Homo sapiens: one gene and its partners. The protein of the gene in region 3 purifies or fractionates together with the protein of the main gene of each other region. This does not show direct contact. Each region holds a gene or a part of one and is shown on either strand. Other genes may lie near its edges.

The links. The genes of interacting proteins can lie anywhere in the genome.
Region 1: the proteins of PRDM16 (region 3) and SAMHD1 purify together in Homo sapiens (affinity purification with mass spectrometry, with the first as the bait; one large-scale study listed by BioGRID). This does not show direct contact.
Region 2: the proteins of PRDM16 (region 3) and TPX2 purify together in Homo sapiens (affinity purification with mass spectrometry, with the first as the bait; one large-scale study listed by BioGRID). This does not show direct contact.
Region 4: the proteins of PRDM16 (region 3) and TRIO purify together in Homo sapiens (affinity purification with mass spectrometry, with the first as the bait; one large-scale study listed by BioGRID). This does not show direct contact.

What each region holds. Positions count from the first base shown.
Region 1 is NC_000020.11:36,948,909-36,953,092, reverse strand, and holds the start of SAMHD1 (deoxynucleoside triphosphate triphosphohydrolase SAMHD1), read left to right. Parts: upstream 1-1,384; 5' UTR 1,385-1,449; coding exon 1,450-1,657; intron 1,658-4,184.
Region 2 is NC_000020.11:31,742,290-31,745,789, reverse strand, and holds part of TPX2 (targeting protein for Xklp2), read right to left. Parts: intron 3,250-3,500; 5' UTR 3,143-3,249; intron 1-3,142. UniProt on the Homo sapiens protein: Spindle assembly factor required for normal assembly of mitotic spindles. Required for normal assembly of microtubules during apoptosis. Required for chromatin and/or kinetochore dependent microtubule nucleation.
Region 3 is NC_000001.11:3,068,071-3,072,002, reverse strand, and holds the start of PRDM16 (histone-lysine N-methyltransferase PRDM16), read right to left. Parts: upstream 2,801-3,932; 5' UTR 2,744-2,800; coding exon 2,707-2,743; intron 1,790-2,706; coding exon of another isoform or gene 140-1,789; exon of another isoform or gene 1-139. Other genes in the region: translation initiation factor IF-2, read left to right, coding at 140-1,789, 3,032-3,055. UniProt on the Homo sapiens protein: Binds DNA and functions as a transcriptional regulator. Displays histone methyltransferase activity and monomethylates 'Lys-9' of histone H3 (H3K9me1) in vitro.
Region 4 is NC_000005.10:14,503,342-14,506,841, reverse strand, and holds part of TRIO (triple functional domain protein), read right to left. Parts: intron 2,450-3,500; coding exon 2,249-2,449; intron 1-2,248. UniProt on the Homo sapiens protein: Guanine nucleotide exchange factor (GEF) for RHOA and RAC1 GTPases. Involved in coordinating actin remodeling, which is necessary for cell migration and growth. Plays a key role in the regulation of neurite outgrowth and lamellipodia formation.

The DNA of each region.
Region 1 (4,184 bases), on a different chromosome or scaffold from region 3:
AAGACCAGCCTGGCCAACATGGTGAAATCCTGTCTCTACTAAAAATACAAAAATTAGCCAGGTGTGGTGGCAGGCGCCTGTAGTCCCAGCTACTTGGGAGTCTGAGGCATGAGAATCACTTGAACCTGGGAGGCAGAGGTTGCAGTGAGCTGAGATCACGCCACTGCACTCCAGCTTGGGAAACAGAGCAAGACTCCGTCTCAAAAAAAAAAAAGAAGACCTGCGGCAAATTACTTTTTCCTACATCCTAAGGTAATTGTGATAATTAAGTGAAGTAATATGTGTAGAGCCCTTAGAACTTTACAATATTTGTAAAACCCTTAGAAGTTATAAAAATTATTTAATATTTAAATAATTTAATGAATGTACTTAATTCATTTAGTATTATGTATAAATATAAAATTATTTTATATTTGTAAAGCCCTTAGAACCGTGCCTGGCACACAGTAAAGCTCTGTTTGCAAATAATATTTTGGCTCACCAGTAGACCACTAGTTCATACTGCTTGATGATAAGCTATTCCGCCTCATTCGTCCTTGACCCCCTAAACAGGTCTATGCCTTGGTTGCTGGGAAGGTGTGTTGGCTTTATTAACAGTAATAGTGATATGTCCTTTTACCAGGCAATTGCATGGACCAGTATTTATAGGGAAGTTTGAGCCCTGCCGCAGAGGGGTTAAGTGATGGGAAAATGCCTGCCATTTTCACATGCTGTTACAACCAGGCAGTAAAAGTCCTCAGAAGTTAAATTTTAAGTAATCAGACTGGCCACTTTCCTTCCTCTGGGAATGCAGTTGGGATGGAGGGCTCTGTCTCTAGTTGGAAAGAAGTCTGAAGTCCCCTCCTGTGTGGACACCAGACAACAGGTATCCCAGGGCCCTCTAGTTGACCAGCAATACTGTGGAATGAAGACACCCTCAAGTCACATTTGAAATCATTCCGGGTTCTTCCAGTTCAGCACCTTGACTGTTTTCCTCTTCACTGGGAAGGTGCTGGCAGCCTGACGGCCTTTTAGGCTTCTTTTAAGTTTGGGGCATCTGAAACCCGGCCAAGGTGCGGCGGGTAGTGTACTCATTCGAAGGAGAATACCCCCAATTCACTAGACGAGCCCCTAATTGGGGGTGCGGTGCCGGGCGCGCTCTTTCCTCCCCCTTTCCACCAGCACTGCCCTCAGTTCTGCTTCTAGCCACGCCCTTTCGCGTTCACGTCCAGCGCCCTGGCGGGATTGATTTGAGGACGACTGGACTGCCATTGCGCCTGCGCAGGGAGCCCAAGGCAAGAGCCGCTAGGCTGCCCTGCCCGAAGGGCTCAACTGTCAGTGAGCCTGCGCAGGAGGCCAATAGGCTGCCAATACTCCTTGGACTCCCCGCCAGGGCCCTGCTGTCAGTGCGCCTGCGCGCGGGTCCGGCGCCGAGGTTCTTGACTGCTGTGCCGGACGCCAGGTGTAGCCATGCAGCGAGCCGATTCCGAGCAGCCCTCCAAGCGTCCCCGTTGCGATGACAGCCCGAGAACCCCCTCAAACACCCCTTCCGCAGAGGCAGACTGGTCCCCGGGCCTGGAACTCCATCCCGACTACAAGACATGGGGTCCGGAGCAGGTGTGCTCCTTCCTCAGGCGCGGTGGCTTTGAAGAGCCGGTGCTGCTGAAGAACATCCGAGGTAGCGGCTCCGGAGGGGCTGAGGGGCGAAGGGCGGCGACCTGGGGCGCGGGCCAGGCGCCCTGAGGGAGGGGGCCCCACGAGAGGACCGAGGCCGAGGAGCGAGCCCTGCGGCGGGAGGCACCCGGGAGGGCGGACCTGCGCTGGGGGCGCCGAGGAAAGGAAGACCCGAGGCGGGGGAGGGAGCCCTGCGGCGGGGGTTCCCAGGAGGGCCTGCGGCATGGGGCTCCCGGGACTGACTCCCCGAGGCGGAGGAAGAAGACATGGGGTCGCCTGGGATAGGCGATTCGTAGGATGGGAGCAGGCTCCCGGGATTGAGGACCTGGGAGGGGCAGTCGTAGATTGGGATCTCACTCTCGTGGGTTTCTTCACTAACTTGCCACCCCGGCGCGGGACAAGCGAGACTCGGGTCCCTTTTTTTTAGTTAGAAGGAGATTTTTCCCCAGACCTTGGTGGGCGGCTTGCTGTCATCCAGGCTCGCGGGACCCCTCCGCGCTAACCGCAGCTCCTTGAACACTTGCCACATCAGAGGATGTTCTGGGGCTTTTAGGTTTCGGTTTCCTCCCTGAATTGAGGCTTTTCCTGAAGGGGAAGGAACTGGCTTGGTTAATCTCTGAATTCCCATCACCTTCCTTGGCATCCCAGCAGCGCCCGATAGGCGTGTGTTGACTGCACTTGCAGAACATGGTAAGGAACATGTTTTGCTCTTTAAAAGCAGGTTCCCCTCCAAAATCTGAACCTTGGGGTTGTTCAGTTGACCACTGAATCCCCAGCATGCCACAGTTTGGCCACATCCCCTGGAGAAGTGTTTAGGTTGAGTTTTAATCATATTTTACTGATTCGTATCCAAGCATCCATCCTTGTGAATTCTACTCAACTTTTTGTGGTGGGTGTGAGATTTGACTCCTGCCTTATATCCTCTAGGTGTCCAATAGGAAGGTGATTCTTTGGTGGTTGGGATTTGCAAATTTAGTAAATTTTTGCATTTGTTAGGTGGGGCCCTGTTTGGCTAGGTTGGAAACTGGGGTAGGAGGAACATTAGTGGTTCAGGACCCAAAGATAGCTTGAATGGGTATGGGAAATTGCATTTCTCCTTTTTTTTTTTTCTTCCCCCTTTTGCCCTTTCGTTTCCCTCCACTGCTGGGATGGATTATTACTTTATTTTCTTTGACTAGCAACAAGTGGAGTGAAGTAGTTCCATATTTTCTGTCTCAAAATGTGGTTGGCTCTCTGTTTCAGTGGTTTGTAGATTAACTCGTTACCCTCCAGAATGATGTGTGTTCCTTAAACCTACAACCTATTGCTATCAAAGACACTATGTGCTTTCATTTGGTAAAAACTGACCAACTGTTCCCAATTGCTCATGTCTTAGCTTCTGCTTTGTCTTGACCAAACTTTATTCGGACTTCTCTCTTCCCTTATGGGCCCCTCAACTCTTGCTTACCCCCAGATCTGACCAGGCAGGCACTAAAGCAGTGGAATATGCCTCCCTCTGGTCAGTTTCTTTTGAGAACCGGCTGACCACAGTAGGATGCTGTCCTGTTGGGCTACACTGCTCATTTTCCCTTGCTCGTCCAGGTTCCTATCCAAAGATTCTGCTTATTTCTGCTTGCCCGTCCTTTATCATATAAAAGAAGACCCTTTTTCTGTTGGATTCTTTTTTTTTTTTTTTTTTTTTTTTGAGACAGAGTCTCGCTCTGTCGCCAGGCTGGAGTGCAGTGGCGCCATCTCGGCCCAGTGCAACCTCTAACTGCCTGGTTCAAGCTATTCTCCTGCCTCAGCCTCCCGAGTAGCTGGGATTACAGGCATGTGCCACCACGCCCAGCTAATTTTTTTGTATTTTTAGTAGAGATGGGGTTTCACCATGTTGGCCAGGATGGTCTCCATCTCCTGAACTCGTGATCCGCCTGCCTCAGCCTCCCAAAGTGCTGGGATTACAGGCGTGAGCCACCGCGCCCGGCCTCATTTTTTTTTTTTTTTTAATTAGAGACAGGGTTTTGCCATGTTGGCCAGGCTGGTCTCAAACTCTTGGCTTCGAGTGACCATCCACCCACCTCGGCCTCCTAAAGTGCTGGGATTACAAGTGTGAGCCACCATGCCCAACCTCTGTTTGGTTCTTGGGCCTCTGTTTGATTATTTTTTAAAATTTATTTTATTATTTTATTTTTTTTCTGAGATGGAGTCTCGCTCTGTCACGCAGGCTGAAGTGCACCGGCACAATCTCAGCTCACTGCAACCTCTGCCTCTCGGGTTCAAGTGGTTCTCCTGCCTCAGCCTCCCTAGTTGCTGGGATTACAGGTGCACGCCACCACGCCTGGCTAATTTTGTGTTTTTAGTAAAGACAGGGTTTCACCATGTTGGCCAGGCTGGTCTCCAACTCCTGTCCTCAGGTGATGCATCCGCCTCTGCCTCCCAAAGTGCTGGGATTACAGGCGTGAGCCACCGCGCCCGGCCGGCCTATGTGTTTGATTCCTGAGCCTCTTGCAGATATCTGATATTGGAGCTTTCTCCCTGTAGAAATAGTCTTT
Region 2 (3,500 bases), on a different chromosome or scaffold from region 3:
ATAGTATGAAGCTGAAAAAGTTTGTAATGGTTGACAGTGTGGCTGCAGATTACAATCCTAGTCAAATAGCAGTCATTTCATTTTATAGAGATTTATTCCCTTCAAAAGGTATCTGGTTTGGGGAATAACACACAAACACTCAAACCCAAGAACCTAATAAAAGTGTTTATTAGATGGCTCATGCCTGTAATCCCAGCACTCTGGGAGGCCAAGGCAGGTGGATCACCTGAGGTCAGGAGTTCAAGACCAGCCTGGCCAATATGGCAAAACCCCATCTCTAATAAAAATACAAAAATTAGCCAGGTGTGGTGGCGTGCCTGTAATCCTAGCTACTCGGGAGGCTGAGGCAGGAGAATCACTTGAACCAGGGAGGCAGAGGTTGCAGTAAGCTGAGATTGTGCCACTGTATTCCAGCCTGGTTGACAGAGTGAGACTCTGTCTCCAAAAAAAAAAAAAAAAAAGTGTTTACCTATGGATGGTGAGAGTGAAGAAGTAACAAGGCTGGAGGAAGATTTTAAACCATGAAGCTTTTTATATTCTTTTGATTTTTGCACCATGCAAATATATTACCTATTTTAAGTTATACATTTATGCCTATGTGAATATATACTGTTTTAGGTAAATCAGCATAATCTTCCTACAAGGCAATTTGGTGTTACATGTCAAAAGTTTTTAAAAATATGTTTTGTTTGTTTGTTTTTTGAGATGGAGTCTCGCTGTTGCCTAGGCTGCAGTAGTGCAATGGCGCGATCTCGGCTCACTGCAACCTCCACCTCCCAGGTTCAAGTGATTCTTCCACCTCAGCCTCCCGAGTAAGTGGGATTACAGGCACCCGTCATCATGCCTGGCTAATTTGTGTATTTTTAGTAGAGACAGGGTTTCACCATGTTAGCCAGGCTGGTCTTGAACTCCTGACCTCAGGTGATCTGCCCGCCTCAGCCTCCTCAGAGTGCTGGGATTACAGGCGTGAGCCACCGCGCCCGGCCAAAAATACGCATTCTTTTAGACCAGCAATTTCACTGGTAAAAGTAATATAAAGAACCAAATAATGGAATACCATATAGCCATTAAAATTATGTTGTAGAAAAATTTGGCCAGGTACAGTGGCATGCACCTGTAGTTTCAGCAACTCGAGAGGCTAAGGCAGGAAGATCACTTGAGCCCAGGAGATGGAGGCTGCAGTGAGCTGTGATCACGCCACTGAAGTGCACACTCCAGCCTGGGTGACAGAGCAAGACCCTGTCTCAAAAAAAACAAAAAAGAAAAGAGAAGAAAATTTATTAATGACACGGGAAAATATTCATAGCCTGATTATTAAGTTAAAAAAATTAGAGGCCGGGCGTGGTGGCTCAAGCCTCAATCCCAGCACTTTGGGAGGCCGAGGTGGGCAGATCATGAGGTCAGGAGTTTGAGACCAGCCTGGCCAATATGGTGAAACCGTCTCTACTAAAAACACAAAAATAGCCGGGTGTGGTTGCGGGTGCCTGTAATCCCAGCTACTCGGGAGGCTGAGGCAGGAGAATTGCTTGAACCTGGGAGGCGGAGGTTGCATTGAGCCAGAGATCGCGCCATTGCACTCCAACCCGGGCGACAGAGTGAGACTCCGACTCAAAAAAAAAAAAAAAAAAAAGTTAAAAAAATTAACAAAAGTTTTTAGTGTATGATTTTTTTAAAAATGAAATACAGTTGGCTGTCCGTATCTATGAGTTCCATATCTGTGGATTCAATCAACTGCAGATCAAAAATATTTGGGGGAAAAAAAACTGCAAGGCCAGGCACGGTGGCTCACGCCTGTAATCCTAGCACTTTGGGAGGCAGAGGCGGGCAGATCACCTGAAGTCAGGAGTTCGAGACCAGCCTGACCAACATGGAGAAACCCCATCTCTGTTAAAAATACAAAATTAGCCAGGTGTGGCATGCCTGTAGTCCCAGCTACTCGGGAGGCTGAGACAGGAGAATCGCCTGAACCTGGGAGGCGGAGGTTACGGTAAGCTGAGATTGCACCATTGCACTCCAGCCTGGGCAACAAGAGCGAAACTCTGCCTCAAAAAAAAAAAAAAAAACTGCATCTGTACTGCATATGTACAGACTTTTTTTGAGACAGGGTCTCTTTCTGCCACCCAGGTTGGAGTGCAGTGGTGCCCTCAGCTCACCGTAACCTCAAACTCCTTGGCTTAAGTGACCCTTCACCTTGGCCCCCCAAGTAGCTGGGACTACAAGTAGGTGCCACCACGCCCGGTTAAATTTTTTTATGTTTTATTTTTTTTGTAGAGACACGGTGCCACTATGTTGCCCAGGCTGGTCGCGAACTCCTGGCCTCAAGCAATCCTCCTATTTAAGTCTCCCAAAGTGGTGGGATTACAGGCCTGAGCCACTGTACCCAGCCTAGACTTTTTTTCTTGTCATTATTCCCTAAACAATACAGTATAACAACTATTTACATAGCATTTACATTGTATTAAGTATTATAAGTAATCTAGAGATAATTTAAAGTATGTGGGAGTATGTACATAAGCTATATGCAAATACTACACATCATTTTATACCAGGGCTTGAGCATCTGAGAATTTTGTTTTGTTTGTTTTGAGACAGAGTCTTGCTGGCTGGAGTGCAGTGATGAGATCTTGGCTCACTTGCAGCCTCTGCCTCCCGGGTTCAAGGGATTCTCCTGCCTCAGTCTCCCAAGTAGCTGAGATTACAGATGCGCACCACCACACCCAGCTAATTTTTGTATTTTTAGTAGAGATGGGGTTTTGCCATGTTGGCCAGCCGGTTTCAAACTCTTGACCTCAGGTGATCCGCCTGCCTCAGCCTCCCAAAGTGCTGGGATTACAGACATAAGCCACAGTAACCGGCCGCATATGAGAATTTTGATATCCTGGGAAGGTCTTAGAACCAATTCCCCATGGATATCAAGGAATGACTATATAGACATAGAAAAAAATTATAAAGAAATCTATCAAAAGGCTAACCATGGTTTATCTGAGAGGTGGGATAGTGGGTGATTTTATTTTCTTTTTGCTTTTCATAATAAATAAATTTCCTTCCAAAATATGTGTTACTTTATAAAATTACATTAGTCATTTAAACACTTATGAAGCTGATATATTAATGTTCCTTATTCCTATGGTCACTGCCTTACCTGTGGTTTAATCAGTCTATCAGGCCTACAGGTCTGACTCAAAGTTGCAATCTTCTCTTTCACCCCTTTTCTGAAATCTTGAAGTCTGGCAAATATGTATCAAGAACCTGGAAGAAGCAGAAAAGTGATGAAACAGGTTCCAAGTTCTCTGTAGTAAAAAAGGGTTAACAGGCCGGGAGCAGTGGCTCACGCCTATAATCCCAGCACTTTGGGAGGCCAAGGCAGGTGGATCACTTGAGGTCAGGAGTTCAAGACCAGCCTGGCCAACATGGTGAAACCCCATCTCTACTAAAAATACAAAAATTAGCCAGGCATGGTGGTGCACGCCTGCAATCCCAGCTACTCGGGACACTGAGGC
Region 3 (3,932 bases):
AGCTCAGCTGGAAGCCCGGGTCACCCCCGGAGCCGCCACCATTTGGCCCTTCACAAGACCCAATCCAGAGGACTAACCCACCTGAACTGAGGCTTGGAGTGGGGTCTCCAGGGAAACACAAACGAAATTACACCTCCAGATGCACACTCGGCGGTGGCCCCCGAAATGCTGGGTCATGGGGTCACCTCCACTGGCCTGGTTGCTGTTCTGTGCCCAGCCTGAATACCAACCTGGTAACCATGACCTTGCCCCTGCCCAACCCCACAGTCCCCTGACCTGGTCAGCATTGTGGGGAGGGGAGGACCTGCTGGCTGGAGTGCTGGCCCTACCGCCTCTGACTCGGGTAATGGACTATGGTCCCCGGGGAAGTTCACATCTGCTTAAAATATCGCCTGATGAAATGAAATTCTTCAGCGGATCCTGCCTTCTTGCTCAGGGCAGGCAGTGTGATCCTGAACCTGCCTCAGCCACCTTGGGGGGCCTGGGACAAGCGGTCCCAGCTGTGGAGCCTGGAAGGAGGGGTTCCCAGCGCTCGGCCAAGTGTGGACAGAGGGCCGAGGCCTGGCAGTCACCTCTCATGGGGTTTTTCCTCACTAAAGACTCTCGGGAAAAGGAAGCCAGCGCTCGGCGCTCCCGCTGGGCCCGGCTCTCCGGCCTCCTGGCCAGATGGCTGCCAGGCACCACTTCTGGTCCTGAGCGGACCCGGTCCCGGGCCACCTTCCCCACCTGGCAGAGGTGGAGCCGGCGGAGAGCTGGGGCCTCTCGGAAGTTTCCAGGGCCGCGCGGGTGCGCCGAGTCCGCCTCTCGCTTGCAGCGAAGGCCCCGGCGTCAGCGCGGCCGGTTTCCCCTTTCTCGTTCCAGCTTAGGGCCCATCCTGGGCGAGGGCCTGACCTGGCGGCCCACACGCAGCCCGGTGGTCCCGACTCTGAGCAGGCCCGCGGTGCACACACAGAACCGAACCCGAACACGCACACGCACACCCCACGCGCGGAGGGCCCGCAACGCCGCGCACAGACAGCCCCTTCGCGTCGGCGGCGAAACGCCCGGTCTTGTTCGCACCAAGAGGGGTCAGAGGTCACGGGAGGCCGAGGCCGAGGGCACCCGGCAGCGGAGCGCGGCGGGAAGGGGGCGCCTCACCCAGGGGCCGGGAACGGCCGATGGCGGGGCGCAGGAGCGTCCGGCACAAACTCGGGAGCTGCTTTTCCCTGGTGCACAGAGCGCGGGGCCTACGGCCGCGGGGCAGCTGTTGGGACGAGCCGGGCGGGCCCCGAGCCGAGGGAGCGGAGCTTCGGAAAACCGCCGCGAGTCCCGCGCGCACCCGGCTCACGTTTGGGGGCTCGGCCCCGGGAGCTGCGAGGCCGGCCTGGAGGGACCCGGCCCCGGAGGCGCGGACGGAACGGCGTGGGTCGGGCGGGGACCTCGAGGGGAGCGGCCCGGGCGCCTCTTCTGCGGGTGGGCGGGCGGGCGGCCTGCAGAGGAGGGGGCGGCGGGAGCAGGCGGCGCCGATTCCGCTCCGCGCGGCGCTGGCCGCTTCGCTGCAGCCGGGGCTTCGGCGGGGCTGCGGGAGCCGCGCTGGCCGGGCCGCGGCTCCGCCTGTCCTCACCTGCCCGCCCGCCTCACCGCGGATGGCGCCGGCGACCGGGGCTGCGGGGTGCGCGCGGGCTGCTCGGAGGCGCTGTGGCGGGCGAGGGCGCGGGTGGCTGGAGCACCCGGCCCGCGGCAAGGACCGGCTGGCGGCAGGCGGGGCGCGCGGAGCCCGGGGCTCGGCCGAGACGGAGCGAAAGAGAAAGTAAGACCGAGGACCGGGCAGCCTGGCCGGGGCAGCTCTGTCCCCGCCGGGCCCGGCTGTGCCAGGCAAGCGGGTACAGAGGGGTCCACGCGGGCCCGAGGGCGGCAGCGGCGGGTCGGGAGGTGGCCGGGTGGGTCCCTCCTGTCGGAGGCACTGTCGCCCCGGCGGCCCGCGCAGGCTGCCGGCGTCCCAGAGGAGCGCCCTCCACCACGCGGGGCACAGCCGGGGATAAACTTCACGACCACAGTTCCCAGCCCGGGCAAAAGTCTCCATTTTGCTCCCCAAGTGGCTGCGGCTGTCCCGCCGTCGCCACCCCTGCCCCTGCGCCCGCGGAGCCGGGTGGGCGCCGGCCCGCGCCCCCTCCTCCGCCCCTCCCCGGCTCGGGGTCTCCCTCCTCTGCGCCCGGCTGGCGGACGCCAAAGGCGGTGCTCTAGCGCCCACTATTTCAAAAGCCCGGAATATGATTTGACCAGGACTGAGAGCCACTCGGAGAGAGAGAGGGAGAGAGCGAGCGGGGAGGAAAAAGTTGCTCTCCCCTTTCGTCAACTTTTCGCTAACTTTCACTTTTCGCTCCCCTCCACCCCCGGCCCTCCCCCTCCGCCCCCCTCCCCGGCCCCCACCGCGCGCCTCGGGTTCCCGGGCCCGAGCGCCTGACACTGGTGGGGGGGGAGGGGGTTCCGCGGGGAGGGGGCCGGCGCCTTCGGGGAGCGCGCGGCCCGGGCGCCCCGAGCCTCCGCGCCGAGCCCGGTCGCCCCGGAGCGCGGGAGGCGGAGCAGCCCCCCGGGCCGCGCGGCCGAGCCGGGGGCCCGGAGCCGCAGGCGCGCCGGCCGCGCCCCGACGCGCACCCCTGGCCCGGGCGCCCCGGCCCGGCGGCCCGGGCCCCGGCGGCGCGGCGCGGCCGAGCGCGGGAGACTTACTTTTGGCTAGCTTCCTCGCCCTCGCCTTGGATCGCATGGTGTCGGCTCGCGGAATCTCTCTCCTCCTCCTTGAGTCCAGAAGCAGCCACACACTATCTTCATCTCCCCAGCATTGTCAGTTTGGACACCTTCGCACATGCGCACAGAGCACTCAATCTGACACCCCTCGCCGGGGCCAAAAAAACTTTGCAATGTATTCATCATCCTCATCGTCGCGCCGCCGCCGCCGCCGCCGCCGCCTCGGCGCGGGATTGGGGGGCTCTCCTCGGCCTTCTCGGTCTTCGTCTCACTTATCTCTCCCCCCTCTCCCCCCCCCCCTTTTCAGCGCAGCTCGGAACTGGCCCTTTAAGAAAACATTCCGTGTTCGGCGCTCCCGCCCGGGGCCCGCACCCCGGACACTTTAAAAGGACCCAGGTGGCCCCGGAGGCGAGGTGACTATCCCCCCACCCTGCCCCTGCGTCGCGGCGCGTCGCGCTGCTGCTCCCGCCCCAGCCGGGGCCGAAGATGGGGCGGCGGCTGCGGTTTTCCACACGACTTCCTTGGATCTCGGGGCACACGCGCCGATAGTTCGGACGCGAGTCCGGGCTGGTTTTGCTCCGTTTTACTGCGTTTGATTACTAATTTAAAAGCTTTGCGTTCCCCGTCGCCCCGGCCCGCTTTTCTCCTGCATTCTCCCCTCGGCCCCCGTCCCCGCCCTGCGATCGCTGGAGGGGGCGTCGGGGCTCGCGCGCCAGAACCCGGCTCCTCCGAAGCCCCCTCCGGGCCCCACCGCCCCCCTCGCGCCTCCCGGCCCCCGCCTCCTCCCCTTCGCCCCCACCCAACGGCTGCTGCTTCGGGCTTCGCGGCTCAAAAACAACAGCGGAGGCGCCGCCAGCTCCGCGCTCCGCCACTGCCCAGGCCGGCGGGCGGCACTCGGACCCGCCGCCCTCGGTCCCTCGCGAGGCCACGGAGGCCAACACGCCTCGCACGGGGGGACAGCGCGGGGGCAGCCGTCCAAACACCAGGCGTCCTCGGCTGGTCGTCCCAGGGCGCCCGCACCTCTCCGCCCGCGCTCTCCTGCCGCCGCGCCCCCAAGGTGAGTACCCGGCTGCGCGAGCGCCCGAGCTGGGCCACCTTCGGGGACCCGGGCCACTGGGGACACTCCCCTCTGGCCTCTCGGGGCCCAGGTGCGTAGCGGGCGGAAAGGCCAGCGGCGCAGGTGGAGCAGCTCGGACGGGAGCCGACCA
Region 4 (3,500 bases), on a different chromosome or scaffold from region 3:
GCCCGGCTGCCGGCAGTGCCAGGTGCAGCAGGCATCCTGCGGTATCTGCTGAAGGAAGGCAAGTAGCTCATGCTTCTCGGAGCTGTAGTTTCCTCACCTGTAGAATGGGCCACGGGAAGACTCACCGAGATCATGTAACCACAGGCTGGGCAGGAGGTGACACACTGAGTGCTCAGTGTTGGACTCAGAAGACTTCCTCCTCTGAAACTACTGTTCATACTAAAAAAACACTTACCCAGCACTGCCAAGTGCCAGGGGCTCAATGCCTTCTAACAACTCATTTAATCCTTATGACTCTCTGTGAAGTGGGCCTTAGTGTACCCATTTGATACACGAGGAAACTCAGGACAGAGAAAGCATGAAACGTTCCCAAGGTCCCACAGCTCCAGAGTGGAGAAGCCAGGATTGGACTGAGGTGGTCTGGCCCCCACCTCTCTCAACACCGGCCTATGCTGCTCTCTTTGCAAAACAGAAATCTGTAGGAAGATCAGCTGCCTGTCTAGCAATGGGGAGTCGCCGGTGAGAACAGGAGTAATCTGTCATGAAAACGGATCCTATTAACAGGATGGTGAGGCCAAACCATTTTGTTTCCCAGAAATGACAGCTGAAAGCACTGAAATGTCAGTCCAGAAACGAAGGCCTTTAGGAGATTTGTGACAAGCACTCAAGCCACAGTTTTGTTAAAACTCCCCAGGGAAGGTGAGCAGTGGCCATTGGTCACCAGCGTCTGGAGCCAGAAAGGAGACCTCCCGGGTCCTGAGGCTCCCAGGCCAGGCCTCGGCTTGGATGTCGGCTCGGCTCTTCCACACACATCGCCCCATCTCGGCCCCACGACAACCCTCCAAAGCCAGTGTGACTTTTAAGGACACCAGGGTGAGAAATGAGCCGATGAGAGGGAGGGCGGGGACTGAGGCCAGGCGAGGCCAGTGGACCTCCTCTCCATACACACTGCTCAGCCTCACTGCGCCCCACCGTCTGCCCTTCTGCCATGAGATGTGTTTTCTATTCTTGAAAGACGGGCTGGAAGCACGTCCCCATGTGCTGGGGGAGGTTCTAGCTGTGCAGCCATGGGTGGGAGGCCTTCCTGAGACACCCACTGTCACCCATGGCACATGGGCGGCCCGAGGAAGCTGGTAAGGCTGCATGTGGGGCCATGTGGGACGCTGTGGCAGCCTTGCCCTAGGAAGGGTATGGGGAGGCATTTATAGTTTCTTTAAGAAAAAAATGACAATAACTACAACATCAGGTACAGGGCCTGGAGGGAGTTCCTGCCGGCGAGGGGCCCCGAGCTTGAGTCTGCCCCTACATGACCCCATGGGGGCGCCCTGCTAATCCTATCCTTCCCACTGAAGAAGCTATGCAAACTTCCCAAATGGTGACAAAAGGTTTTACCCTTCCCCATGGAAAAGCAGCTGTAAATGCAAGTAAATGTATAAAATGACTCCCCCTAAAAAGGAGGAATCGACATTTTTCAAAGCTAAATGCACAGATGTTTGGGGTGGATGAATCCATGGGGGTTGTCCCTGCCTTGCAGGAGGTTGGGTGGCATCCCTGGCCTCCGGCCGCTCCCTGCCGGACTCACCCCCAGCCTGAGCTCTCCTGACATTTCCACGAGAACCCACCCCTAGATGAGAACCGCTCCTGTGGGACACAGGTTTCAAACTCTTTTCTTGACGTGACTAAATTATTTTCTGATCTTACACAGGAGCCCAGTAAGTACAACGGGGACCAGAGGGGCAGCTCTGGTTGGTGTGCCCGCGCCCCCTCTTCGGAGGACATTCTGCGGGGAGGTGCGTCTTACCCTCCCATCCAACTGGCCTTCACTTGGCAGGAGGCCTGAGGGGCACCCCGCTGATCCGGGGTGAGCTGGCCCTGCACAGGCTTGGGGTATCAGGTCAGCCTCCAACCACTAATGGGGGCTTGGGTTCAGCACCAGAGACAGCCTGGCCTCATGGGACCTTCAGAAAAGGGGTGGGGGGGGTGCATCTCCGGGTTGGCTGAGCATATCAGGTGTTCCATCCCAGCAGTGACTGCCCTTCATCAGGCAACCGCCCTGTGGAAGACCACACTGCTTTCTGCCATTACTGGAAGGCTTGAAAACTGCGGGCTCTGACAGTGAAGATGTTTTTTAGTTCTGTAAATTCTACAAACCCAATTTCTATCCTTCTTAGAGAACAAACAGGAACAACAAAACCCCCTGAGGTGGAGGCAGAGGGCTGGGCAGAGGGAAGGCCAGGTGTGTACGCACATTTCTAAGACCAGGATGTAGCTGGTGGGGGTCTCAAAGGTGTCGAGGAGGCCGACAAGCAGGGGGTGCTGGAGGCTCTGCAGGATGCCAAGCTCATGGGTGACCTGGTCGCGCTTCATCAACTTCTTGTTCACAAACTTAGTGGCCACTGCTCGCTTGGTTCCTTTCTGATCACATTTCTTAACGACAGAGAATCTGCCCCTGTAAAATATGTCAGGGGGACCATTTGCAGAGGCTGCTGAGGTCTGGCACCGAGAAAGACTCTGTTATCCTAAATGGACTGGCTGTGTGGTGGCCCAGCCCTGTCCAGAGGCCCTGCTCTCCCGGCCACTCCACGGAGGGGCTGTGGTGCCATGGCTGTCCCCCAAATCTGCCCTTGTCCCCGCAGCCACGCGGTTCTGCTGGTCCTTCCTCCCAGGCAGCCTTGGTCTCCTCACGTCGGTGGCTGCTTTCCCAGCACTGCGTGTGGTGGAAGTGACAGAGGAAGACCTCTGAGCCTTGGCCTTGCCGGGCGACTCCCTTCTGCTTCCCACGACGAGCAGAAGCTGGGATGGCTGCTCACGCCTCCCGTCAGCCACCTTTCCCTGCACGTTTGAAAGGTGCGTCTGCTGTGGTCACTGCCTCAGCCTCGCCCCTGTGGGGGTGTGTGGGGCAGGCACGAGGACCCTGGAGCTGCCCCTGATGACCCACTCCTGGGGACTGGCCACAACTCAACGCGATCTGGACGAGGCCTTGGACCTCAGGTGGGGGCCTGGGCTGGGGGCCTGAGGTGGGTGAGTGCATTCTGCACATGTGAGGACCAGAGATGCGCCTGTGGCGGGCAGACTGTGTGGTTAAAGGCCACGGTTTTGCTACTTCTGTCACTCGGAGGCGGGGGCTATTCGTCCCCTTGAATCAGGGCTGCCTGGGGCTGGCTCTGGCCCACAGGATGTGGAGGACGTTGGTCGTTCTGAGGCTGGGCCTTCAGAGGCCTTGACGCTCCTGCTCCTGCTGTTCTGGGATGCCACTGCCCTCACGTGGGGGAGCCCAGGGTGAAAGTCGATGTGGAAAGAGGCCAGTGTCCCAGACAACGCCTCTGACACGCATGGGGCATGGTGCACCAGCTGACCAGGCCAGGAGAGGCCAACAGAATAATGGTCCCATCTGCCCACTGCACTGGAAGAAGGCACATGTCACCACTGTCCTAAGACAGCATGTGCTGGTGTGACTTTTTATGCAGCCACAGACAGCTGACAGAGACAGCAACAGGAGC